Homo sapiens: one gene and its partners. The protein of the gene in region 1 purifies or fractionates together with the protein of each later gene. This does not show direct contact. Each region holds a gene or a part of one and is shown in the gene's direction. Other genes may lie near its edges.

Region 1 (4,025 bases):
TGAGTAATAAACTAAAGGGCCATGAGTGATTAAGGAATTTGGCCACTCTTTAGAATTAATTGGGAGCTATTTAACTACCTTGAGCAAAATAAATCACGACTTTTGAAAGAAGGTTGAACGGGAAGACAAACTCAGAAGCTCCTGCAGTAATCAAGGACAGAAGCAATTGTTAAATGCACCTCTTAGGCTGTTATCAGTAGAAATACGAAATAAAAGATAAATATGCAAAAACATTAATGGCACAATAAACACTCACGGTTTTGCCTTTAGACTTGAGATACACTAAAATCTAGATTTAATTAATCGACTTGGACGTTGGAATAAGATAGTAAAACTCACAACAAAACTTTGTAGAACTTAGTCAGGAAAAGAATCTCAAGCATAGCTTTAAAAACAGAAATTGCCCCGAGTACTAAGGATGAGCAATAATGAAATTAAAACATATTGTAATAACATTACACAAACTATATTGGAGACTACAAAGAAGAGATTATTCATAGATTATAAAGCTTGGAAAGAATCAAAACAACACATTTCTGGAAACAGATTGTATAAATGCTACAAAAGAGAAAAATATATTTTCTCCCCACGCAACACAAGACCTTAAAGTCAATTCTCGCTTTTCTTGCAATATTTTATACCTTTTCAATTCATAGAATTACTCAAGAAAACTACCTCAGTTGGTTGCTACTTTTTGTTGATTCCTTTTACCAGACATGACTAAGTTTCTTTTTCATCAGTAGATTTCTGGGCTCCTATATTCACTAGAGATTGCAACTCCTGGATTTCTCTTACACTAGAATCCTATTTCGAGCCATATGGGAGATTCTGAATTCCAGAACAAAAGAATTTTGTAATTTAAAATTCGTGATTGCTCAATGGAATCATTTTAATTGTTACTTCATTTCTGTCGTTATTTAAAACTTAAGTGGAGAGTTTTCTCAGGGATAAGAAAACCACAATCAAGGTCATACAAAACTTTTAGAGGCAGTCAGTCTGCTAAGAAGGCTCCAGCAAGAGAAACGGGATCTTCTGTTTCAACAATCATTACTTAAGAAAAAATTAAGAAAATGAAATAAGTTTTGCAGAATAACTGTGAAATTTTTATTCATGAAATATGTACTTACACTTTGGGCCACGTGATGTCACTCTTTGCCGCGATGTTCTCTCTGAATCCAGACAAATACAGCCCTTTTCCCATGGGAAAGAGGCTCAATTCTTTTTCACTCTCTCTGTGCTGAACGATGGCGAACACAGCAGAATGGGACTGACGAAATCAGATGATTTCTTCTAATTTGGAGGCAATTTTCACTAATTAGAAGAAGACTGAGTATTTGAAATGTTATACTCAAGTCGAGGAGATCCAGAGGGTCAGCCTCTACTGCTCTCGCTTCTGATCCTCGCAATGTGGGTGGTGGGGAGCGGCCAGCTCCACTACTCCGTCCCGGAGGAAGCCGAACACGGCACCTTCGTGGGCCGCATCGCGCAGGACCTGGGGCTGGAGCTGGCGGAGCTGGTGCCGCGCCTGTTCCAGTTGGATTCCAAAGGCCGCGGGGACCTTCTGGAGGTAAATCTGCAGAATGGCATTTTGTTTGTGAATTCTCGGATCGACCGCGAGGAGCTGTGCGGGCGGAGCGCGGAGTGCAGCATCCACCTGGAGGTGATCGTAGACAGGCCGCTGCAGGTTTTCCATGTGGACGTGGAGGTGAAGGACATTAACGACAACCCTCCAGTGTTCCCAGCGACACAAAAGAATCTGTTCATCGCGGAATCCAGGCCGCTTGACTCTCGGTTTCCACTAGAGGGCGCGTCCGATGCAGATATCGGGGAGAACGCCCTGCTCACTTACAGACTGAGCCCCAATGAGTATTTCTTCCTGGACGTGCCAACCAGCAACCAGCAGGTAAAACCTCTTGGACTTGTATTACGGAAACTTTTAGACAGAGAAGAAACTCCGGAGCTTCATTTATTGCTCACGGCCACCGATGGAGGCAAACCCGAGCTGACTGGCACCGTTCAATTACTCATCACGGTACTGGACAACAATGACAATGCCCCAGTGTTCGACAGAACCCTGTATACGGTGAAATTACCAGAAAACGTTTCTATCGGAACGCTGGTGATTCACCCCAATGCCTCAGATTTAGACGAAGGCTTGAATGGGGATATTATTTACTCCTTCTCCAGTGATGTTTCTCCAGATATAAAATCCAAGTTCCACATGGACCCCTTAAGTGGGGCAATCACAGTGATAGGACATATGGATTTTGAAGAAAGTAGAGCACACAAGATCCCAGTCGAGGCTGTCGATAAAGGCTTCCCACCCCTGGCTGGTCATTGTACACTTCTTGTGGAAGTTGTGGATGTAAATGACAATGCTCCACAGTTGACTATCAAAACGCTCTCGGTTCCTGTAAAAGAGGACGCACAACTGGGGACAGTTATTGCCCTGATTAGTGTGATCGACCTAGACGCAGATGCCAACGGGCAGGTTACCTGCTCCCTGACGCCCCACGTCCCCTTCAAGCTGGTGTCCACCTACAAGAATTACTACTCGTTGGTGCTGGACAGAGCTCTGGACCGCGAGAGTGTGTCCGCCTACGAGCTGGTGGTTACCGCGCGGGACGGGGGCTCGCCTTCACTGTGGGCCACGGCCAGGGTGTCTGTGGAGGTGGCCGACGTGAACGACAACGCACCAGCGTTCGCGCAGTCCGAGTACACGGTGTTCGTGAAGGAGAACAACCCGCCGGGCTGCCACATCTTCACGGTGTCTGCGCGGGACGCTGACGCGCAGGAGAACGCCCTGGTGTCCTACTCGCTGGTGGAGCGGCGGTTGGGCGAGCGCTCGCTGTCGAGCTACGTGTCAGTGCACGCGGAGAGCGGCAAGGTGTACGCGCTGCAGCCGTTGGACCACGAGGAGCTGGAGCTGCTACAGTTCCAGGTGAGCGCGCGCGACGCGGGCGTGCCGCCTCTGGGCAGCAACGTGACGCTGCAGGTGTTCGTGCTGGACGAGAACGACAATGCGCCGGCGCTGCTGACACCTCGGATGAGGGGCACTGACGGCGCAGTGAGCGAGATGGTGCTGCGGTCGGTGGGCGCCGGCGTAGTGGTGGGGAAGGTGCGCGCAGTGGACGCCGACTCGGGCTACAACGCGTGGCTTTCATACGAGCTGCAGCCAGAAACGGCCAGCGCGAGCATCCCGTTCCGCGTGGGGCTGTACACGGGCGAGATCAGCACAACGCGTGCCCTGGACGAAACGGACGCACCGCGCCAGCGCCTACTGGTGCTGGTGAAAGACCACGGGGAGCCAGCGCTGACGGCCACGGCCACTGTGCTGGTGTCGCTGGTGGAGAGCGGCCAGGCGCCAAAGTCATCGTCGCGGGCGTCAGTGGGTGCCACGGGCCCCGAGGTGACGCTGGTGGATGTCAACGTGTACCTGATCATCGCCATCTGCGCGGTGTCTAGCCTGTTGGTTCTCACGCTGCTGCTGTACACTGTGCTGCGGTGCTCGGCGATGCCCACCGAGGGCGAGTGCGCGCCTGGCAAGCCGACGCTGGTGTGTTCTAGCGCGGTGGGGAGTTGGTCGTACTCGCAGCAGAGGAGGCAGAGGGTGTGCTCTGGCGAGGGTAAGCAGAAGACCGACCTCATGGCCTTCAGCCCGGGCCTTTCTCCTTGTGCTGGATCTACAGAGCGAACGGGAGAACCCTCTGCTTCCTCAGATTCAACTGGGAAGGTGGGTTTTTCTAGCATTTTATTTATTTATATAATTTTTTTTCTTGAAAGATATTATCGATTACTCCCAGGGGCCGTTCAAATAGTTTTATTCATTTTTCTAGAAATCCAGCAGATTTTTTTTCTGATAAAGTAAACCCCTTAACATTGGAGCCGACTTTGTCTTGACTTCTAGTGAGAATTATAAACTGTATATTAAATAGATATTTTTTGGGTGCTGAATCAATTTTATTTAAATTTGTGATTAAAGTGACATTGAATTTCTGATGCTATGCTGCCATAACACTTGAAAA
Region 2 (3,500 bases), about 120 Mb from region 1:
TCACATATTGGGTTCCTGGAGAGTCCTTGCATCACCAGCTGTCTCCTGAAGGAGTTGAGACAGTTGCTAAACCAGGCCCAAACCAGGCATCTGATGGTGAGATTACCCCATTGGTGGTTCACCCCTAACTAGAATCTTTTTTTTTCTCTGAGAAAGATTTTTGCTGTCACCCAGGCTGGAGGACAGTGGCACAATCATGGCCTACTGCAGCCTCAGCTTCCCTGAGCTCAGATGATCCTCCCACCACAGCCTCCCCAGCAGCTAGTGTGCACCAATATGCCCTGCTAATTTTTGTACTTTTTGTAGAGATGGGGTTTCGCCATGTTACCCAGGCTGGTCTTGAACTCCTAGACCCAAGTGATCCACCCACCTCAGTCTCCCAAAGTGCTGGGATTACAGGTGTGAGATACCATGCCCGGCCCTAACTAGAATCTTGAATTTTTTTGTATGTCATTTAGCAAATGTATGTTAAGTACTTGTGAACAACTAGTTGTCAAAATTCCTGTGAGCTAGCACAGGAGATAAGCAGATGTGTATAATTACCATGCCAGGCATGCATAGACCAAGTGATACCATGTTCAGAAAAGTCTCAGTCTTTTAAGTCTTCCTTTTGCATTTTCTCCCTGATTTCTCATTTTGCAGCTGGAGACTTGCAGTTGGTGGACATGACTGGGTGGAGGTAGAGGGGAGGATTAGAGGCTGTGGCAGTAGAGAAGACAATGAATGTCTGCTGGTGGTGGGAAGCATCCTCTTTCAGTATTTATCCCTCTCAAGTTTCCTTTTAGACAGCAGTGTTTATGACCTTTTGACTGATGTTGTAATCAGAGTGGTCAAAGCAAATACCATGGATAGTTAAGCAGCTGCCATCAGCAGTAGGCTTGGAATGCCCAGCACTCAGTCTCTCATCCTGTGGTTATATTCAGAATCCTACCCAGTCTCATAGATTTCAATATCTTCTGTAGGCCCGTGACCCCCACATTTATATCTCTAGTATAGCCTTCCCCTCAGCTGTAAACTGAAGATATCCAGCTGCCTCCTTGATATTTCTACTTGTGTCCAAAAGGAATCATTAACTTAACCTGTCCAAAATCAACTCCTGCTATGCATCCTAGTCTGCTCTCTGTAAGTAAATGGCATCTCTGTCCTTCTAGTTACTTAAGCCAAATGCCATGCAGTCTTCCTTTATTCTTCTATTTTCTTTCATGCTTACATTAGAATCGATCACCAAATTCTGCTTTATCTGCTTTTGCACTATCTATCTTCAGAGGCTGACTGCTTCTCACTACTTCTATGGCTACTACCCAGGTCCAGGGCACCATCATCTTTCGCCTGACTTCCTACAGTAGCCTCCTGCTGCCTGGTCTCCATATTTACATCCTTACTACCCACTATGTTCTATTCTCAAAACTGTAACTAGGGGGATCCTTTTAAAACATTAAGTGAGGTCAAACTCTGCTCAGATTCTTTCAAAGACTACCTATCTTACTCAAAGTAAAAGCCAAAGTATAATGGCCTGCAAGGCCCTGCACATAGTGTGGAGCATCTGTGGTTCTGTGGTTTTGTATTAGTTGCTCTCTGGATTCCTAACTATTCCTCTAATGCATCAAGTGTGTTTCTCAAGACCTTTGCATTTGCTGCTGTATTTGTTTATAGTATTCGCTTAGATATTCACTTGACTTGTCCCTCACTTCTTGCAGGCCTTGACATAAATTTCACCTTCTCAGTGTGGCCTTTTTTGACCACCTTCCATAAAATAACACCTACCCAATCCTTTTTATCCTGTTTTATTTTTCCTTATATCCCCTACTGCCATTGTGTGTATTGTATATTATTTATTGTCTCCTCCTTCTAGAATCTAAGCTTCAAGCCCTAGCCTTTTGTTGTTGTTACTCTTGTTCTTTACTGGGTGTTGCTTAAACCGTTAGTTTGAATTAAAATATGTAACTGATGGAAACGGTTCTCCCTTAGTCCAGATGATGTATTTTTCATTCCATTTACAGTTTTATTCTGTTGGTGCCTAGAAATGAGAAATTATATGAACTTTTCTTCCTAAAAATGAATATTAAATGATTTGTTTGTCTTAAAAAAATAAAAGTCAGCCAAGTGTGGTGGCATGAGCCTGTAGTACCAGCTGCTTAGGAGGCTGAGGTAAGAGGATCACCAGAGGCCAGGAGTTTCAGGCCAGCCTAGGTGACACAGTGAGACCCTGTCTCTAGGGGAAAAAAAGGAAAAAAAAAAAAGTTGATAATGCTTAATAAAGAAAACTTGGAAAATAGAAAGCCTTTACATACAAAGCTAGTGTTTATGGAGTGCTTACCTGCCAGACACTGTTCTAATAAGCATTTTATGTGGATTCACTCAGCTAAAAAATGACAAATTACCTAAATTTCACTCCCCTTCACAAGGTAACTTGTTTACTTATTTTGGACCTGAAACTTTTTATTGAAGAATAAACTTACAGAAAAGTGCATATATGTATACAGCTGGCCCTCTGTAGTCATAGATTCTCCATCTGTGCATCCAAACTAAAGTATTCGAAAAAAATTTTGTCCATACTGAACATGCACAGACTTATTTTTCTTGTCATTATTCCCTAAACGTTTAGTACTGTGTAACAACTATTTACATAGCATTTACAATGTATTAGGTATTAATAAGTAATATAGAGATGATTTAAAGTATGCAATGATTTAGGTTATATGCAAATGTTATACCATTTTATATCAGGGACTGGAACATCTGCAAATTTTAGTATCCTAGGGAGGTCCTGGAAGCAATCCCCCATGGATACCAAGGGATGACCGTACTTGTGATATCATGATTCAGTGTAGTGAAATTTTAAATATAACTAGCACCTAGATCAAGAAACAGCATGTTAATAATACCCTGACATTTCCCTTGTGTGTCCTTCCAGAAACTACCCCTCCTTTCTCCAAGAGTAACTACTATTCTGACTTATAGCTGCATAGATTGGTTTTGCCTGTTTTTATACTTTATATAAATGGAATCACAAAGAATGTACTCTTGGGTGTGGCTTCTTTTGCTCAACTTTATGTTTGGGAGACCCATTCATACTATTTTATATAGCTGTGGAGAGTTCTTACTGTTACAGAGTGTTCTGTTCAGTGCTCCACAACATCTAGTCTACTGTTGATACACATTTGAGTGGTTTCTAATTTGGGGCTATTACAAACAATGCTGCCACATCATTCTAATGTGTCTTTGGCAAATGTTTATAGGTTATCTGTTGTGTGTATATGTAGGAGTTGGGCCAGAGGATATACATATGTTCCATTTTAGAAAATACTGTCAAATTGGTTTCCAAAGTGGTTTTCTATACTCCCACTTGTAGTGAGGGAGAGTTTTTCATCTTAGCAACTTTGGTGGGTGTGTAGTGGCTTTAATTTGCATCTCCCTGATGATGATTACTGCAATCAAGAGGCTTTTTGCATATTCATTGGCCATTTGGATATCTTTTTGTGAGGTATCTGATCAAGCAT
Region 3 (3,500 bases), on another chromosome or scaffold:
CCCAGCACAGAGCCTGGCATTCAGGAAATGGCAGGGGGTGGGAGTGAGGGTATCAGTGGCCTCTTGGTCCGGTGACTAAAATAACTTTACTGGGTCGGAAAGCTCTCCCTGAACTTCCAGAACAAAGCATGGGCCCCACATGGTGCTACCTCCCAGCAAGAAAGGGGTTGGGAAACAAAGGGCTGGGGCCCAGCGAGCCCCCTGACTTGTGTTTTCCAGACCTGTCTTCCTCGCTGGAAGTTTTGCGTGAGTGACACAGAAAACAACCTGGGCTTTGCGTTGGGCCCCATGTTTGTCAAAGCAACCTTCGCCGAGGACAGCAAGAGCATAGTAAGTGCCTTCCCCGTGGACACAGGCTGTGAGGTCACACTTGTTGTGGCCTGCACAGACCTGCCAGTTCACACTCCAGCCCACCCTGGGCCTTTCCTGCTCCTGGGCAGGGGACCTTAGGGCCACAGCCTCAATGCAGAGGCTTCACTTCCTCGAGCCCTGGGTAATGGGAGTCTCACGAGGGCAGCTCTTCAGTGCCAGGCCCTTATCTGCACGAGCTCATGTGATCCTCCCAGCAGCCTGCAAGGCTGTGACAGCCATCCCCACCTCCAAGGGCTGTGAACGACCCAGAGAGAATGTTGGCAGAACAGCTCTGGCCCAGAGGGTGACATTTTTCTTATTTTGTGGGTGACAGGTTTGTTCTAGACAGGCAGAGGAGTGCCATGGCAGAGCGCCTTGGAGACAGCCCGGCCTAAGCTCAGATCCTGGCCTCACCGCTGGTCGGGTGGCCTGGGACAGTTCTTACATCATCTGCAATGTGGAGACGGGGGCATTCCTCCCACAGAGAGAGATTAAATGAGATGCCACACACTGGGCACCGGCATACAATAAGGGTTCAGCTAATGGGAGTGGTCATTTTATTGTTACAATCTTGATGACAAATAGTATTCATTATGTAGCTGTCATCTGCAGCCGGAGGTGAGCCAACCGCAATTCAAATCCATTACAGTGACTGGCCTGTGAGCAGCTGGGCAGGGTCTGAGTTGGGGTCTGCTGGCCCCTCTGCTCTTGTTGCCGCACAGCTCTGCCTTCCCCTTCTCTAGAACCTTCAACTTTCCATCTTCGAGCTTGTCTGCTCATGACATTGTCTCCCTCAAGAACACCTGTCTATATCCAGCCTGAGCATGGTATTTCCGAAGCTGCTCCTCGGAACATGAGTACTCTAGATCTTAAAGCCCGCTCCATCAAAAAGGAATGCTGTGGTCCAATAAGGCAATAAGGCTGGGAGAGGCTGTGTCTTCTCCCCTCTCTGGAAGAATCACGGTGCCTATTATTACCATATTAAAGGCTCTGAAAAGTACCACAGCAGAGACTTTTCCAACTTTCCCGAAGCTCATCCTAAGCTTATTGGAGCATGGAGCCCTGTGTGTGGAAGGCCAGTCCTGTCTTGCAGGGTGTTCACGTTAGGAGCGTGGTTTGGAAGCACAGCTGTGGCTCCCCTTCTCACCCAGCCTGACGCTTGGAAAATTGAGTTTAATCTCTGGCCATCATTGTTCTGCACGGGGTGCCTGTTGCATTTACCTGAGACCAGTGCGCAGACCTTACTGCTGTGATGTGTATCTCCTCAGGCCACCGAGATCATCCTGGAGATTAAGAAGGCATTTGAGGAAAGCCTGAGCACCCTGAAGTGGATGGATGAGGAAACCCGAAAATCAGCCAAGGAAAAGGTGAGGCTGGCCAGGCACTTGGAGGGGGTGCTGCGGCGTCCAGCACAGATAGAGGAGGGTGGGGGAAGGAGAGGCCGGTTTTTTTGTTTGTTTTTTGAGGCAGAGTTTCGTTCTTGTTACCCAGGCTGGAGTGCTATGGTGCGATCTTGGCTCACCGCAACCTCCGCCTCCCGGGTTCAAGCGATTCTCCCACCTCAGCCTCCCGAGCAGCTGGGATTACAGGCGTGCGCCACCACGCTCGGTTAATTTTGTATTTTTAGTAGAGATGGGGTTTCTCCATGTGGGTCAGGTTGGTCTCAAACTCCCGACCTCAGGTGATCGACCCGCCTTGGCCTGCCAAAGCGCTGGCATTATAGGCATAAGCCACCGCGCCCGGTGAGGCCAGTTCTGTCCGGCAGCACAGCCTGGATGCTGTCTCGCCTTCAGCGGGTGAGCGGTCTAGGCCTAGCAGGATTCGGGGTAGGCCTCAAGCACATGATTGCTTGGATGTCTGTAGAAGACAAACCTCGCTGAGTGTACGGGGAAAAGGTGCAGGAAAACGCAGCACGTCCCGTGGGTCGGGAAGGCTCTGGCACCCTCCAGTGGGATGGGAGTCAGGGAAGACTTCCCTTGGGAAAGTGACATTTAAACAGAGACCTAAGGGATAAGTAGAAGTTTTGCAAGGGGGAAACCTTTCCAGAAAAAGACATGAAAGCCCAAGGCAGGCAGGGCCTGGCTCTGGTTCCCCTTGGCCCAGACTATGAGCCCAGCACCCAAGTTGCTCAGGCTGGCCTGGTCGATGTTGCCGGGCACTCACTTCCTCTGTCTGTCCTGTCCAGGCCGATGCCATCTACAACATGATAGGATACCCCAACTTCATCATGGATCCCAAGGAGCTGGACAAAGTGTTTAATGACGTGAGTAGCTGCTGCCCTGCCCCCTTGCGTTCCTAAATGCCCCCTTAGAAAAGGGCCGAGGCAGGGCTGGGTCCAGATGGGGTGCTAGAGGCAGCATGGTTGTCAAAACACACAGGGATGATGTGGTGTGGGGCTTGGGTATGGGTCAGGCATGAGGAAGCCTCTTCTTCTTCTTAATTTGGCTCCTGGGTCAGCTGGAGGCCCTGCCTCCCCATAGCCACCATCCATCAGCAGTGCCCACCAGTCAGTACAGAACCCGTGCTGTGTGCCCCCTGGAAGTGGTCAGCTCCATTTAATATGTGGGAAATAATGGAGGAAACAGACCCCAGAAGGTGCAGAGAGAATTGGTGGCCCTCAGACATCAGGGGTGGGGTATGAAGTGGGAAAACCCCCACACCACCTCCTCCCTCCCTGGTCGTGCTTCCAGTTACCTCCTGTCCCTGCGGCCCTCCTCCACCTCCCCAGAAACCCGGACCTCTGATTTTGACTTTGAAATGCTAATGGGAAAGAAGCAGCTTAAATCCAGGTGCATTTTTAAGCTTGGTTTGGGCAATGGAGGTGGTTGATACATCCCTGCTTATTAGAACTTTTGGCAAATCACTCAGTTAGGTGGATTGTGCTTCTGCCTCAAATTATGAAGTTTTATATCTTCTTGTGATTGAAATACTTGAATTCAGGTATTTAAGAAAAAATTTTTTTTGAGACAGGGTCTCATTCTGTTGCCCAGACTGGAGTGTAGTGGTGCTATCTCAGCTCACTGCAACCTCCGCCTCCCAGGCTGGCTCATATTCATGAGCCACCATGCCCAGCCTGAATTCAGGCATTTAAAAATCTAATAACCTCTCGTCATGGTTATATTTAGAACCTAAGACTATAAAGACTCATT
Region 4 (3,316 bases), on another chromosome or scaffold:
GGGCTGTCTGTCTGTCTCATTGCACTGCTGGTGGCCCTGGCTTTCGTGTGCTGGAGAAAGATCAAACAGAGCTGTGAGGAGGAGAATGCAGGTGAGTGTGTGTGTATGTGTGTGCGTGCGCATGCACACTTATGTGTCTTGGGGTATGTTGCTGTCTTTGATGTCAATAGAGTGTCACTTTCTAGTGACAGAACGAGTGTGTGTGTGCAGATGGGGCTGGATTTGTCTGTGTGTGACCTTGAGTCTACGTCTTGTGTGTGTGAACAAGCGTGAGCCTGTCTGTCCATGTGCAGATACCACAGGATGAATGTGGATGAGTGTGACTGGAAGGTGGTGGGAGTGTAAGGCCAAGTGCTACAAAGGGATGAGTGTGTGCCAACAAGTGTGCCTGTGAAAGTGTAAGTCAGTCACGTGTGTGTGAGAGAGCAGGCCAGAGCATGGAAGCTGTGCGGCACAAATGTAGGCATGCCAGGGGCGTGCATGGCACTGGGGGTGATCGTGCCTGCCTTGGAGTGAGTTTGAAGCAGCTGCCATTTGCGGGGCTGAGGGTCAGCCCGAGCTGGCATTGGTGACTGGTAAGTGGGTGAGAGGACATTGGTGGGTGGTGAGTTGACCCTGGTGGGTAAACAGATGCATGAGAGTAGATGGGTAGTCAGAGGCTGGGGATGGCTGGAGGTTGGGAAGGAGAGGGAAGAAGAGTGGTCAGTTGGCAGATAGGTGAGTACTTGTGAGGTAGACAGGTGGAAGGATGAGCAGGTAGACGGCTGGTTGGTTACATCTGTTGGAGGTTGATGGTTGGCAGGGCTACTGAGCGAGCGGATGGGTGAGGTGATGGGTGGGTGGGCTGGTGGAGGGTAGGTGGATGGTCTTTGGCTGGGTGTGTGGCGGGGGCTCCAGGTTGAGTGGATGGTCTTTGGCTGGGTGAGTGGTGGGCTCCAGGCTGGGTGGATGGTCCTTGACTGGGTAAGTGGTGCACTCCAGGCTGGGTGGATGGTCTTTGGCTGGGTGAGTGGTGGGGGCGCCAGGCTGGGTAGTTTTTGGCTGGGTGAGTGGTGGGCTCCAGGCTGGGAGCCCCTTCATGTTGTCACAGGCTCGGCTCTGCTGTGCTCTGCTCTCGGGCTCTAACCCGTGTCTAGCATTTGGTCCGCAGGTCAGGCCCACTCAGGCCCTGTTCACCAGCTTCCTGCACTCTCAGGTGGGAAAGTGCTGGCATGAAAATGGGCTTGCAAAAGATTTTTGTTTATTCTGAGTTCTTGCCTTTGCAGGAGCTGAGGACCAGGATGGGGAGGGAGAAGGCTCCAAGACAGGTGAGTCTGAACTTGGAGCTGGCCCTCTTGGCTGGGAGAGGGACATATGGGAAAGGAGAGAGGACTCTAGGATCTGGAGGGGCCAGATTTGCTGTAAGGTTTGAATGAAATGTGTTCTGTGGACTCAGACCTCCCCACCCCGGTGAGTCTGCTCTTTGCCCAGAGTTAGGCAGGAAGTGGATCACCCAGTTCCCTCCCAGGTGTGGCTTCATTTCTCCTGCCAACCTTTACCCATCTGCCAGGGCCGATTCCACCTGATTGGCCCCACACCGTGGAGTCTGGTGGCTTCCTAGGGGTGGGAGCAGGGGCTCCGGAGATAGGGAGTCTGGGTTTAAGTTCCTGCTCCATCTCAGGTAAACAGAGTGGCCTTGAGCAAGATGCTTTGCCTCTCTGGCTTCGGTTTCCTCTTATGTAAAATGAGGATAATCACAGATTCATAGGTTGTTTGAATTATTAATTGAGATAATGTATATAAAGGACCTAGTATCATATCTAGTGCCAAGTGCTTAATACTCTGGAGTCCTATTACTATTAGGCAAACAGCTTAAGACAATACTGTTCTAGTTACAGACTGTGTAGCTTTGGGCAAGGTGCCTTGCTCCTCTGGGCATCAGTTTCCCATCTGTAAAATGTCATCCTGACCCTGCCCTGATGGCACCAGAGGGCTGTTTTGAAGCTCTTTCAGGTGACTGGAGAGGGAGGTACTTGCAAAGGACATAGGAGCATGGCACAGTAAGCTGGGGGCCCAGCTTGGGTGGGTGCCAAGGCACTGGTGCCCATGGCCGACTCCCAGGGGATCCTGGGCTGGGAGAGGCAGGTTTCCGCTGAGCCATTTGGGATGGTTCCAGTTAATGCCAGTTCCCTCCCCACCCCCGCAGAAGGAAGGGCAGGAGATTGACACTTGGGGACTGCTATAAATTATGCCAATTAATTCTTTGCCTGTTGGTGCCCAGCGTGGCAGGCGTAGAGACAGCTCTGGGATCAGACCTCATTCTTCATGCTCAGAGGCAGATGTAGTTGGCAGAAGGGAGGGAGTGAGGAGAAGAGTGTGGGTGATGGAGTTGGTCAGTCTCATTCCACATGGTCCCAGGCCCACCTGCAAATCTGCCAGCCTCCTTTAGCTTCTCACATCACCCTGTGTGTACATTGGGCTCAGGGCACTTCCGCATCTCCAGCTGGAGGTGGAGGGCTCGAGGGTTGTCCCATTCTATAGATGCAGAAAACTAAGGCCCAGAGAGGAGAATGACAAGCCACAGAGTGGAACTGGGACCTGGGACTGGGGCTTGGGACAGCAACCTAGGGCCCCTTCCCTTGTGCTATGAAGTGGTCCCACTCTGCTGACTTGTCCCGCCCCTTCCAGCCCTCACTCCTCCCTCTGCCTGACTCCCTACCCCACCACTTCCCATGGTTCCTCCCTCACCGTGTGCGCCTTCCTTTTTTTACAGCCCTGCAGCCTCTGAAACACTCTGACAGCAAAGAAGGTAAAGACACCTGGGCTTGAGGTTGTGTCTGTGTATGCACACATCTGTGTGTGAGAGGCTGAGAGGGTGGGTAGGCATCATCCTTTCACTAGTGACCTGAGGCCCCCTCTGCAGAAGAGCAGCCTCAACTTCCCCCTGGTGAGATGGCAGAGGGCTGAGTAACCAAGGTCCCAGCTGCTCTGATGGGACCCAAATACGACAGAGGCTTAAGCAGGACAGGAGTTTATTCCTCCTTCCTGTGATAGTGTGAGCATAGGTAATCGTAAAACCACTGATGACCTGGAGCCAGGTTCCACTTACCTGGATTCTGCCCTCTTCAACTTCAAGCTTTCACTCCTAGGTCTAAGAGGCTGTTTGTGCTCCCACGCCCCCTCCAGAGCCAAGAGGGAGAGAAAGGAAGGATATGTTTCCTTCTAGAGCTTGAGTGGAAGTAGCCTGCATCACTTCCGCTTACATTCCATTGGTCAGAACCCAGGCATATGAGCCCTAACTCAGGGGAGGCTAGAAAAGTGTTCAGCTGGGTAGCCA
Region 5 (3,500 bases), on another chromosome or scaffold:
AGAATTGATTTGGGTGATTTCTTCTGGCAATTTCAAAAGATATTTTTGTTGCCTAGACTTCTTATTCTTGCATGTACCACTAGAGGCTATAGTTTGCTTTCGTAAAGGAATTGGCATTTCTCTTGGACCAAACTCAAAGAAGCTGCGTCTAGGGCCTAAATCTTCTAATTTTAGCTACAGAGTAAGTATTTGATGGCATTTAGAGAGTGAGTTCGTGGAATTAATGCTATGTGAAATTGACATCATAAGCACGTGACATGTAGGTAATTTGTTCTTATTTCTTTTCACATTGGTATTGATTATTTGATAAGGCTTGGAAAGCACTTATTCAATACCTGACACACAGTGAGCATTCACTAAAAATTAGCTTTAACCATTATTTAAATTCTATTAATAAATTCTCAGGAGGACAAATTTAGATTTACAAGCTTCAGTATGAGTTTTTATAAATTTCAATCTGATTTTTTAATTGCCTTCTAAAATATTTATCCTATTCTCAGCATTATTACTTAATTTATACGGCAGAATTATGGGAAAATGCATTTTTCTGTTGCCTACTAATGGACAGTGTATAGTGTCATGGTTCTCACCACTTACAAACATCACTGGATTAAAATAAATCTCTATTTTAAATCCTTACTGACATATAAAATTTGTTCTTTTTTTCAAGTGAATATGCTTTTGTGTATGTGACTGTATTAAGAAAATTGAGTCTGAAGAAAATAAGAATTGACTTTATGGGTCTTTTGTAAAAGGAGGTTGTGTTACAATCACCATTGCCTAAAATATTTGTAAATATAACCTTTTTAGAAACGTATATATGGAGGCTGTGATTGTTGCCGAGTAAAAAGTATAAGGATTTGTTTTGTGAATCATTCTATTCAGCCTGATTTTAGATACACCTTGCTGGTAAGTGTTACTTAGCCATCAGTGTACCAGATGTTTGATTAACTACTATAGCAACCTGCCCTTGTGCTGTTGGGGACATATTACCCATCTACCCCGTGAATTATTAAAGCCTGGTGAAAAATTTTATTTCAAACCCTGTTTGGAAGCACGTGGAGAGTAGTGGGGTTCAGTTGTTGAGGAAAGGGTGAGGGCAGAGCATGCACTTAGGTCAGTTATGAATTGAAGGTGAATAGGAGGAGGAGAGAAAGAACAACCGACAATTCCAGCACAACCATGGGTGTGCCTGGGGGAACATGTGGTTCCATGTGACAGTTGAGGCATTTGGGAGACAACCCAGGTCTTGACGTTTGAGTACCGGTCACATGCTCACAGTTAGAGTTCATGAAAAGTTTTGTTTTTCCTCAGCCTTTGAGTAGGCACCACTGTTCCGCAGCCTTAGAATAGCCAAGGAAAAAGAAAGCCAGGGAAAAAGAAAGCTGCTTTGTTATTGTCCTTGCTTATCCTCTCGATTTTGCCACTCACTCTCCCTGTTTTCCCATGTGTGGAACACTTTCCTTTTGCTAAAAGTACCTGCGTATGAGAAGAAGGATGCCGATAAGTTGGGGATTGATTTTAAAAACAAGCAAAGATATGTTTTTTATGGTTAAATGATAATGAGGTGGGAGATGGGGAAGCAAAAGAGAGGCTTGCCTTAATATTTAATCTTAAACTTGGAAAATAATAGTGATCTGACTAAACATTGCCTCATTTTTGTCTGTATTGTTTTGAGTAGCTTAAAGGAAGAATAATGTTTATGCTACGTATTAACTCATTCAGTTTTTCAGTCTTTTCGATATTTCTCATTTGGATTTATCTCCATTGTGATTTTTCTGTCCACTTTGTAAGCCACAAAATACTCATTCCCTTCTATCAGTTTTAACAACTTAAATTTTTATATTTAAGTATTACATTTAAATAATTTAAGTCAATTCACACAAATATAAGGTAACTAACTTCTTTTAAGATGAAGTTTTATGAAATAATGTTTGCATAATTGTTTTTCATTTGTTCTTTGGTAAAAAGAAATAATATATTATTGTTATGATATATCTTAAATCACTGTGGATATTAACTCCTAGAAATACTTTACCAGCTGTTTACTTAGATAATAAAATTATATTATTGCAAGAAATCCTTGTCTCAACTTTCAAACAAGATGAGAAGAAAAATGAACTTGTGATTTCCACATTGATACATTTTCATATGCAACCTGAAATGGTAAAGTTATAAATAAACTATTTCATTATTAGTTTCTACAAGGGAAAAATAACTGAAGCAGCAAGCTTCTAATGTATTTTTTTAGCATAGTGTACCAGATATATTATGGTTTGCCCACTATCCTTTCAACTTACATTTGCATGTAGCTCTTCTTTGCCTCTCCAAAACTTAGGTTTATTTTAAGGCCTCAACCCAAGGCTTCCTCCATTAATGTAAGTGCAGTCAGTTATGATTTCACTCTTCTCTAAACTGACCACCTATTGTGCTCCTTTATCGAATACGGGCCTCTGGCATTTCTACCATACAACTGTGGAGATGAAACATAAATACGTTTATAAAAAGTACAAGCTTTCTCAGGCAGGGGATTTATCGTCTATCTCCTTTATGTACCCCATGATGCTTATTTAACATGGTGCTAAATGTGGTGAGCGCTCTCTGGGTGTTTTGTGAATTCATGTAAGATTAAAACATAATATTTTGGAAGTTATGCAACCCTTTAGACGAGTACACCCATACAAATTAGTCTATAAAAAGATTTAGGAATGACTACCAGAAGAATAATTGCATTTGTTTAGACATGCTATTATACATTAAAATCCCAGTTTCTTAAAGACTGTTTTTCTTTTTGAGATCATTAGGATCTTTTTTAAACTGATTCCTTTTTCCAGTTTGAGATACACACACACACCCACACACCCACCCACACCCACACCCACACATCCACACACCCTTGGTAGAAAATGTGAAAAATAAGGGGAAAAAATCCTCATGTTTTTCTACCGTACAAAGATAATCACTGTTAACATTTGTTTTGTTCTGCCAGACTTATCATTGGATTTTAAGTAACAGAATTGTAATCCTGTCATTTTCACTTAACATTGTAACACTTAAACTCTTTTCTATTCCAAATTCTTTGTAAATTTTATTTTAACAGTTTGCATTATAGCCTGCGGGAGCCGAGCCCTTTAATTGAATAGGTAGGAAGAGTGGATGGTGAAATGCCTATATTTTTCTCTCTTGTCTGCTATAAAAGACATTTGCAAAAGTTGCTTCCATGAGGCAGAAATTGAAATGGGACTCAAATTCAGGTGTACTGAATTCTGCTCTTGTGCTTTTTCCAGGAAACCAGAAGTAAACTTTAAGTAGCTGTTGCTAATAATGATGAGCATCACTGGAAAGCTCACTGTGTGCCAGGGACCGTGCTGTGTGCTTTGCCTGTGTTCTCTCATGATCCTTATATTAATATAACCCACCAGGTTGACACTATTTTCCCCATCTTATAGGTGAGGAAACTGAGGCTTAGGTCAAGTAATTTGCCCAAAATAGTATTCAGA
Region 6 (3,069 bases), on another chromosome or scaffold:
CCACCATCAGGTACCTGCTTACCCAGGCTGGGCCTTGCTCAGAATTCCCCCAGGGGATCTCCTCCTCTCCCCTCGCTTCAGCCTGGAGGAAAAGAGGGGAGCGTGGGGGTGGGAAGGGAGAGAGGTTCCAGGAGGGCCTGGGATAAGGAATGTGTGACAAGTTAACCCAGGAACATGGACAGAAAGGCTGGAGGTGACTATGCAAGAGTGGTGAAGGGACTTGGGCCCTGCCATGACGTCCCTTCTGCTTTCTCTCACCCTCACTCCCCTCTGAGTCCAGATTGGGGAGCACAATAAAAGAAGAGCCCCCTAGTGTTGGCCAGGCCTGGGAGATTGAGAGGGAAGTGACCCTTGGCCTCACGTGGGCATTCCACCTCCACATGGGGAGCCAGAGTGACCGGGCCCGGGGAGTGGGCTCTCTCTCCTCTCCTGGATGGGAATCTGCGAAGCTGCCCCCAGTGACCTTCTGTCGGTTCCCTTCTCAGCTACCCAATGCTGCTGCATGTGGCAGCCCAGATCGCCTCCGGCATGCGCTATCTGGCCACACTCAACTTTGTACATCGGGACCTGGCCACGCGGAACTGCCTAGTTGGGGAAAATTTCACCATCAAAATCGCAGACTTTGGCATGAGCCGGAACCTCTATGCTGGGGACTATTACCGTGTGCAGGGCCGGGCAGTGCTGCCCATCCGCTGGATGGCCTGGGAGTGCATCCTCATGGTGAGCAGCCCGAGGACAGCCAGGTTGGAGCAGGGCAGGTGGGAGAACACTGGCCGCCACTCACAGCCCTGGTCTCCATCAGTCACACACTTTCTCTGGGTTGCATTTTACAGAATCTCATCTATAATATGAGGTTCTCCTAGCCCAAGGGACTGGGGAAAGCAGGAGCTGCAGTGTGATGGGCAAGAATCCAGGAGCCAAGAGTGGGTACTGGGGATGGAGACAGGGTGGCAGAGAGCTCAAGAGATGAGGTTGGGCGAGGAAGCTGGAGATAGAAGGGGTTGGGTAGGGAGACCGAAGGTCAGGACCAGAAAGTGGGGGTGGATGGAGAGGAAGGAGGAGCAGAAGGAAGAGGTGGGCCAGGGCCCTGGAGAGAGGACCAGAGCATGGAGAGGAAAGGCAGAGCCCAAGGGAGAGGAGTTGGAAAAGGTGGCCAGCGGAGGAGAGTGGAGAGCCTGGCGTCAGGAGGGATCAGGCCTGAGTGGAGCCCAGAGTGGATCTGGGGCTTCCAATAGGAAGGGAGGAGGGTCTACGTTGCCTGATGTCCCTGTCTGTTTTTGCTGCCTTCTCTGCATCCCAGGGGAAGTTCACGACTGCGAGTGACGTGTGGGCCTTTGGTGTGACCCTGTGGGAGGTGCTGATGCTCTGTAGGGCCCAGCCCTTTGGGCAGCTCACCGACGAGCAGGTCATCGAGAACGCGGGGGAGTTCTTCCGGGACCAGGGCCGGCAGGTCAGAGTGGAGGAGAGGGAAGATGGGTCCGAGGCGGGGGACAGAAGGGGCAGAGTTGTCATCTTGGAGACTAAAGAATATTTGTTCCCTGACTCTCATCCACACTGCCACAATGCAGGTGTACCTGTCCCGGCCGCCTGCCTGCCCGCAGGGCCTATATGAGCTGATGCTTCGGTGCTGGAGCCGGGAGTCTGAGCAGCGACCACCCTTTTCCCAGCTGCATCGGTTCCTGGCAGAGGATGCACTCAACACGGTGTGAATCACACATCCAGCTGCCCCTCCCTCAGGGAGCGATCCAGGGGAAGCCAGTGACACTAAAACAAGAGGACACAATGGCACCTCTGCCCTTCCCCTCCCGACAGCCCATCACCTCTAATAGAGGCAGTGAGACTGCAGGTGGGCTGGGCCCACCCAGGGAGCTGATGCCCCTTCTCCCCTTCCTGGACACACTCTCATGTCCCCTTCCTGTTCTTCCTTCCTAGAAGCCCCTGTCGCCCACCCAGCTGGTCCTGTGGATGGGATCCTCTCCACCCTCCTCTAGCCATCCCTTGGGGAAGGGTGGGGAGAAATATAGGATAGACACTGGACATGGCCCATTGGAGCACCTGGGCCCCACTGGACAACACTGATTCCTGGAGAGGTGGCTGCGCCCCCAGCTTCTCTCTCCCTGTCACACACTGGACCCCACTGGCTGAGAATCTGGGGGTGAGGAGGACAAGAAGGAGAGGAAAATGTTTCCTTGTGCCTGCTCCTGTACTTGTCCTCAGCTTGGGCTTCTTCCTCCTCCATCACCTGAAACACTGGACCTGGGGGTAGCCCCGCCCCAGCCCTCAGTCACCCCCACTTCCCACTTGCAGTCTTGTAGCTAGAACTTCTCTAAGCCTATACGTTTCTGTGGAGTAAATATTGGGATTGGGGGGAAAGAGGGAGCAACGGCCCATAGCCTTGGGGTTGGACATCTCTAGTGTAGCTGCCACATTGATTTTTCTATAATCACTTGGGGTTTGTACATTTTTGGGGGGAGAGACACAGATTTTTACACTAATATATGGACCTAGCTTGAGGCAATTTTAATCCCCTGCACTAGGCAGGTAATAATAAAGGTTGAGTTTTCCACAACTGTGTGAGTGGGTTCCTTGGGAATTTGGTAACTCTGCCTCCTGCACCTCCCTCTGAACCCACTTCCCAACCCACTTCCCATCTTCCTTTTTTCCTGCCTCCTCATTCCATTTCCCATCACCTGTTTTGCCCAGCATTGTGTTCTGTTTCTGGATAATCCAGGCCTTTGCCTGTGGGACCTCAGGAGATGCATGAATGTCTGAGTGCATGAACCTTCTCAACTCAGAGGGGTGCTCTGGTGGAGGCCTGGAAGGAATGCAGTCAGGCCAGGGGTGCTGAACCTTTTTTGTGCCATAAACGCCTTTGGCAGTCTGTAGAGGTCTACTGAGTCCTCCTCAGAATTAGGTTTTAAAACCTATAAAATGGACCAGGCATAGTGGCTCACCCCTGTAATCCCAGCACTTTGGGAGGCTGAGGTGGGTAGATCACTTGAGGCCAGGAGTTCGAGACCAACCTGGCCAACATAGCAAAACCCCATCTCTACTAAAGATACAAAAATT
Region 7 (3,336 bases), on another chromosome or scaffold:
TATCTCTTCTCTTGTCTCTTTTTTCCTCTTTTTTTTCCTTCCCTTCCCCTCTCTTCGTTTCTTTTCTCTCCTCTTCTCTTCTTTCCTCTCTTCCCTTCCCTTTCTCTTTCTCTTCCCTATCCCTTCTCCTCTCCTCTCCCCTCCTTTTTTCTCCTCTCCTCTCCATTATTTATTTTTCCTTCTTCTCCTCCATCCCTTCCATCCTCTCTCTTCCCCTCTTCCTTCCTTCCTTTCTCCATTTCTTCCTCCTCTTTCCTTCAATCCTTCCTTTTGGATATGCTCATGGGTGTGTATTTGTCTGCCATTGTGGCATTATTTGAATTCAGAAAAGAGTGAAAAACTACTGGGATCTTCATTCCTGGGTCTAATTCCACATTTTTTTTTAAGAACACATCTGTAAAAATGTTCTGTACTAGCATATTCCCAGGAACTTCGTTAAATTTAATCTGGCTGAATATGGTAAATCTACTTTTCACTTTGCATTCTTTCTTTAGTCATACCATAATTTTAAACATTCAAAATATTTGTATATAATATTTGATTTTATCTGTCATTAAAATGTTAACCTTAAAATTCATGTTTCCAGAACCTATTTCAATAACTGGTAAATAAACACTATTCATTTTTTAAATATTCTTTTAATGGATATTTATTTCAATATAATAAAAAATTAGAGTTTTATTATAGGAAGAATTTACCAAAAGAAGGAGGAAGCAAGCAAGTTTAAACTGCAGCAATAGATTTGTCCATTCCAACCTCTCAAAATTCCCTTGGAGACAAAAATCTCTAGAGGCAAAGAAGAACTTTATATTGAGTCAACTTGTTAAAACATCTGCTTTTAGATAAGTTTTCTTAGTATAAAGTGACAGAAACAAATAAGTTAAACTCTAAGATACATTCCACTATATTAGCCTAAAACACTTCTGCAAAAATGAAACTAGGAGGATATTTTTAGAAACAACTGCTGAAAGAGATGCGGTGGGGAGATATGTAGAGGAGAACAGGGTTTCTGAGTCAAGACACACATGACAGAACAGCCAATCTCAGGGCAAGTTAAGGGAATAGTGGAATGAAGGTTCATTTTTCATTCTCACAAACTAATGAAACCCTGCTTATCTTAAACCAACCTGCTCACTGGAGCAGGGAGGACAGGACCAGCATAAAAGGCAGGGCAGAGTCGACTGTTGCTTACACTTTCTTCTGACATAACAGTGTTCACTAGCAACCTCAAACAGACACCATGGTGCATCTGACTCCTGAGGAGAAGACTGCTGTCAATGCCCTGTGGGGCAAAGTGAACGTGGATGCAGTTGGTGGTGAGGCCCTGGGCAGGTTGGTATCAAGGTTATAAGAGAGGCTCAAGGAGGCAAATGGAAACTGGGCATGTGTAGACAGAGAAGACTCTTGGGTTTCTGATAGGCACTGACTCTCTGTCCCTTGGGCTGTTTTCCTACCCTCAGATTACTGGTGGTCTACCCTTGGACCCAGAGGTTCTTTGAGTCCTTTGGGGATCTGTCCTCTCCTGATGCTGTTATGGGCAACCCTAAGGTGAAGGCTCATGGCAAGAAGGTGCTAGGTGCCTTTAGTGATGGCCTGGCTCACCTGGACAACCTCAAGGGCACTTTTTCTCAGCTGAGTGAGCTGCACTGTGACAAGCTGCACGTGGATCCTGAGAACTTCAGGGTGAGTCCAGGAGATGCTTCACTTTTCTCTTTTTACTTTCTAATCTTACATTTTGGTTCTTTTACCTACCTGCTCTTCTCCCACATTTTTGTCATTTTACTATATTTTATCATTTAATGCTTCTAAAATTTTGTTAATTTTTTATTTAAATATTCTGCATTTTTTCCTTCCTCACAATCTTGCTATTTTAAATTATTTAATATCCTGTCTTTCTCTCCCAACCCCCTCCCTTCATTTTTCCTTCTCTAACAACAACTCAAATTATGCATACCAGCTCTCACCTGCTAATTCTGCACTTAGAATAATCCTTTTGTCTCTCCACATGGGTATGGGAGAGGCTCCAACTCAAAGATGAGAGGCATAGAATACTGTTTTAGAGGCTATAAATCATTTTACAATAAGGAATAATTGGAATTTTATAAATTCTGTAGTAAATGGAATGGAAAGGAAAGTGAATATTTGATTATGAAAGACTAGGCAGTTACACTGGAGGTGGGGCAGAAGTCGTTGCTAGGAGACAGCCCATCATCACACTGATTAATCAATTAATTTGTATCTATTAATCTGTTTATAGTAATTAATTTGTATATGCTATATACACATACAAAATTAAAACTAATTTGGAATTAATTTGTATATAGTATTATACAGCATATATAGCATATATGTACATATATAGACTACATGCTAGTTAAGTACATAGAGGATGTGTGTGTATAGATATATGTTATATGTATGCATTCATATATGTACTTATTTATGCTGATGGGAATAACCTGGGGATCAGTTTTGTCTAAGATTTGGGCAGAAAAAAATGGGTGTTGGCTCAGTTTCTCAGAAGCCAGTCTTTATTTCTCTGTTAACCATATGCATGTATCTGCCTACCTCTTCTCCGCAGCTCTTGGGCAATGTGCTGGTGTGTGTGCTGGCCCGCAACTTTGGCAAGGAATTCACCCCACAAATGCAGGCTGCCTATCAGAAGGTGGTGGCTGGTGTGGCTAATGCCCTGGCTCACAAGTACCATTGAGATCCTGGACTGTTTCCTGATAACCATAAGAAGACCCTATTTCCCTAGATTCTATTTTCTGAACTTGGGAACACAATGCCTACTTCAAGGGTATGGCTTCTGCCTAATAAAGAATGTTCAGCTCAACTTCCTGATTAATTTCACTTATTTCATTTTTTTGTCCAGGTGTGTAAGAAGGTTCCTGAGGCTCTACAGATAGGGAGCACTTGTTTATTTTACAAAGAGTACATGGGAAAAGAGAAAAGCAAGGGAACCGTACAAGGCATTAATGGGTGACACTTCTACCTCCAAAGAGCAGAAATTATCAAGAACTCTTGATACAAAGATAATACTGGCACTGCAGAGGTTCTAGGGAAGACCTCAACCCTAAGACATAGCCTCAAGGGTAATGCTACGATTAAACTCCAACAATTACTGAGAAAATAATGTGCTCAATTAAAGGCATAATGATTACTCAAGACAATGTTATGTTGTCTTTCTTCCTCCTTCCTTTGCCTGCACATTGTAGCCCATAATACTATACCCCATCAAGTGTTCCTGCTCCAAGAAATAGCTTCCTCCTCTTACTTGCCCCAGAACATCTCTGTAAAGAATTTCCTCTTATCTTCCCATATTTCAGTCAAGAT

Evidence for each region.
Region 2: the proteins of PCDHA9 (region 1) and ZNF622 purify together in Homo sapiens (affinity purification with mass spectrometry; one large-scale study listed by BioGRID and IntAct). This does not show direct contact.
Region 3: the proteins of PCDHA9 (region 1) and ECE1 purify together in Homo sapiens (affinity purification with mass spectrometry; one large-scale study listed by BioGRID and IntAct). This does not show direct contact.
Region 4: the proteins of PCDHA9 (region 1) and CD276 purify together in Homo sapiens (affinity purification with mass spectrometry; one large-scale study listed by BioGRID and IntAct). This does not show direct contact.
Region 5: the proteins of PCDHA9 (region 1) and LONP2 purify together in Homo sapiens (affinity purification with mass spectrometry; 2 studies listed by BioGRID and IntAct, with this or other methods). This does not show direct contact.
Region 6: the proteins of PCDHA9 (region 1) and DDR1 purify together in Homo sapiens (affinity purification with mass spectrometry; one large-scale study listed by BioGRID and IntAct). This does not show direct contact.
Region 7: the proteins of PCDHA9 (region 1) and HBD purify together in Homo sapiens (affinity purification with mass spectrometry; one large-scale study listed by BioGRID and IntAct). This does not show direct contact.

Annotation. Positions count from the first base shown.
Region 1 is NC_000005.10:140,847,157-140,851,181, forward strand, and holds the start of PCDHA9 (protocadherin alpha-9 isoform 1 precursor), read left to right. Parts: upstream 1-1,225; 5' UTR 1,226-1,339; coding exon 1,340-3,733; coding exon of another isoform or gene 3,734-3,868; exon of another isoform or gene 3,869-4,025. UniProt on the Homo sapiens protein: Potential calcium-dependent cell-adhesion protein. May be involved in the establishment and maintenance of specific neuronal connections in the brain.
Region 2 is NC_000005.10:16,459,301-16,462,800, reverse strand, and holds part of ZNF622 (cytoplasmic 60S subunit biogenesis factor ZNF622), read left to right. Parts: intron 1-3,500. UniProt on the Homo sapiens protein: Pre-60S-associated cytoplasmic factor involved in the cytoplasmic maturation of the 60S subunit.
Region 3 is NC_000001.11:21,234,964-21,238,463, reverse strand, and holds part of ECE1 (endothelin-converting enzyme 1), read left to right. Parts: intron 1-219; coding exon 220-330; intron 331-1,619; coding exon 1,620-1,718; intron 1,719-2,536; coding exon 2,537-2,614; intron 2,615-3,500. UniProt on the Homo sapiens protein: Converts big endothelin-1 to endothelin-1.
Region 4 is NC_000015.10:73,708,383-73,711,698, forward strand, and holds part of CD276 (CD276 antigen isoform a precursor), read left to right. Parts: coding exon 1-91; intron 92-1,265; coding exon 1,266-1,307; intron 1,308-2,752; coding exon 2,753-2,788; intron 2,789-3,316. UniProt on the Homo sapiens protein: May participate in the regulation of T-cell-mediated immune response. May play a protective role in tumor cells by inhibiting natural-killer mediated cell lysis as well as a role of marker for detection of neuroblastoma cells.
Region 5 is NC_000016.10:48,271,800-48,275,299, forward strand, and holds part of LONP2 (lon protease homolog 2, peroxisomal), read left to right. Parts: intron 1-3,500. UniProt on the Homo sapiens protein: ATP-dependent serine protease that mediates the selective degradation of misfolded and unassembled polypeptides in the peroxisomal matrix.
Region 6 is NC_000006.12:30,897,588-30,900,656, forward strand, and holds the end of DDR1 (epithelial discoidin domain-containing receptor 1 isoform 2 precursor), read left to right. Parts: coding exon 1-10; intron 11-485; coding exon 486-720; intron 721-1,300; coding exon 1,301-1,450; intron 1,451-1,568; coding exon 1,569-1,709; 3' UTR 1,710-2,569; downstream 2,570-3,069. UniProt on the Homo sapiens protein: Tyrosine kinase that functions as a cell surface receptor for fibrillar collagen and regulates cell attachment to the extracellular matrix, remodeling of the extracellular matrix, cell migration, differentiation, survival and cell proliferation.
Region 7 is NC_000011.10:5,232,338-5,235,673, reverse strand, and holds HBD (hemoglobin subunit delta), read left to right. Parts: upstream 1-1,190; 5' UTR 1,191-1,240; coding exon 1,241-1,332; intron 1,333-1,460; coding exon 1,461-1,683; intron 1,684-2,581; coding exon 2,582-2,710; 3' UTR 2,711-2,836; downstream 2,837-3,336. UniProt on the Homo sapiens protein: Involved in oxygen transport from the lung to the various peripheral tissues.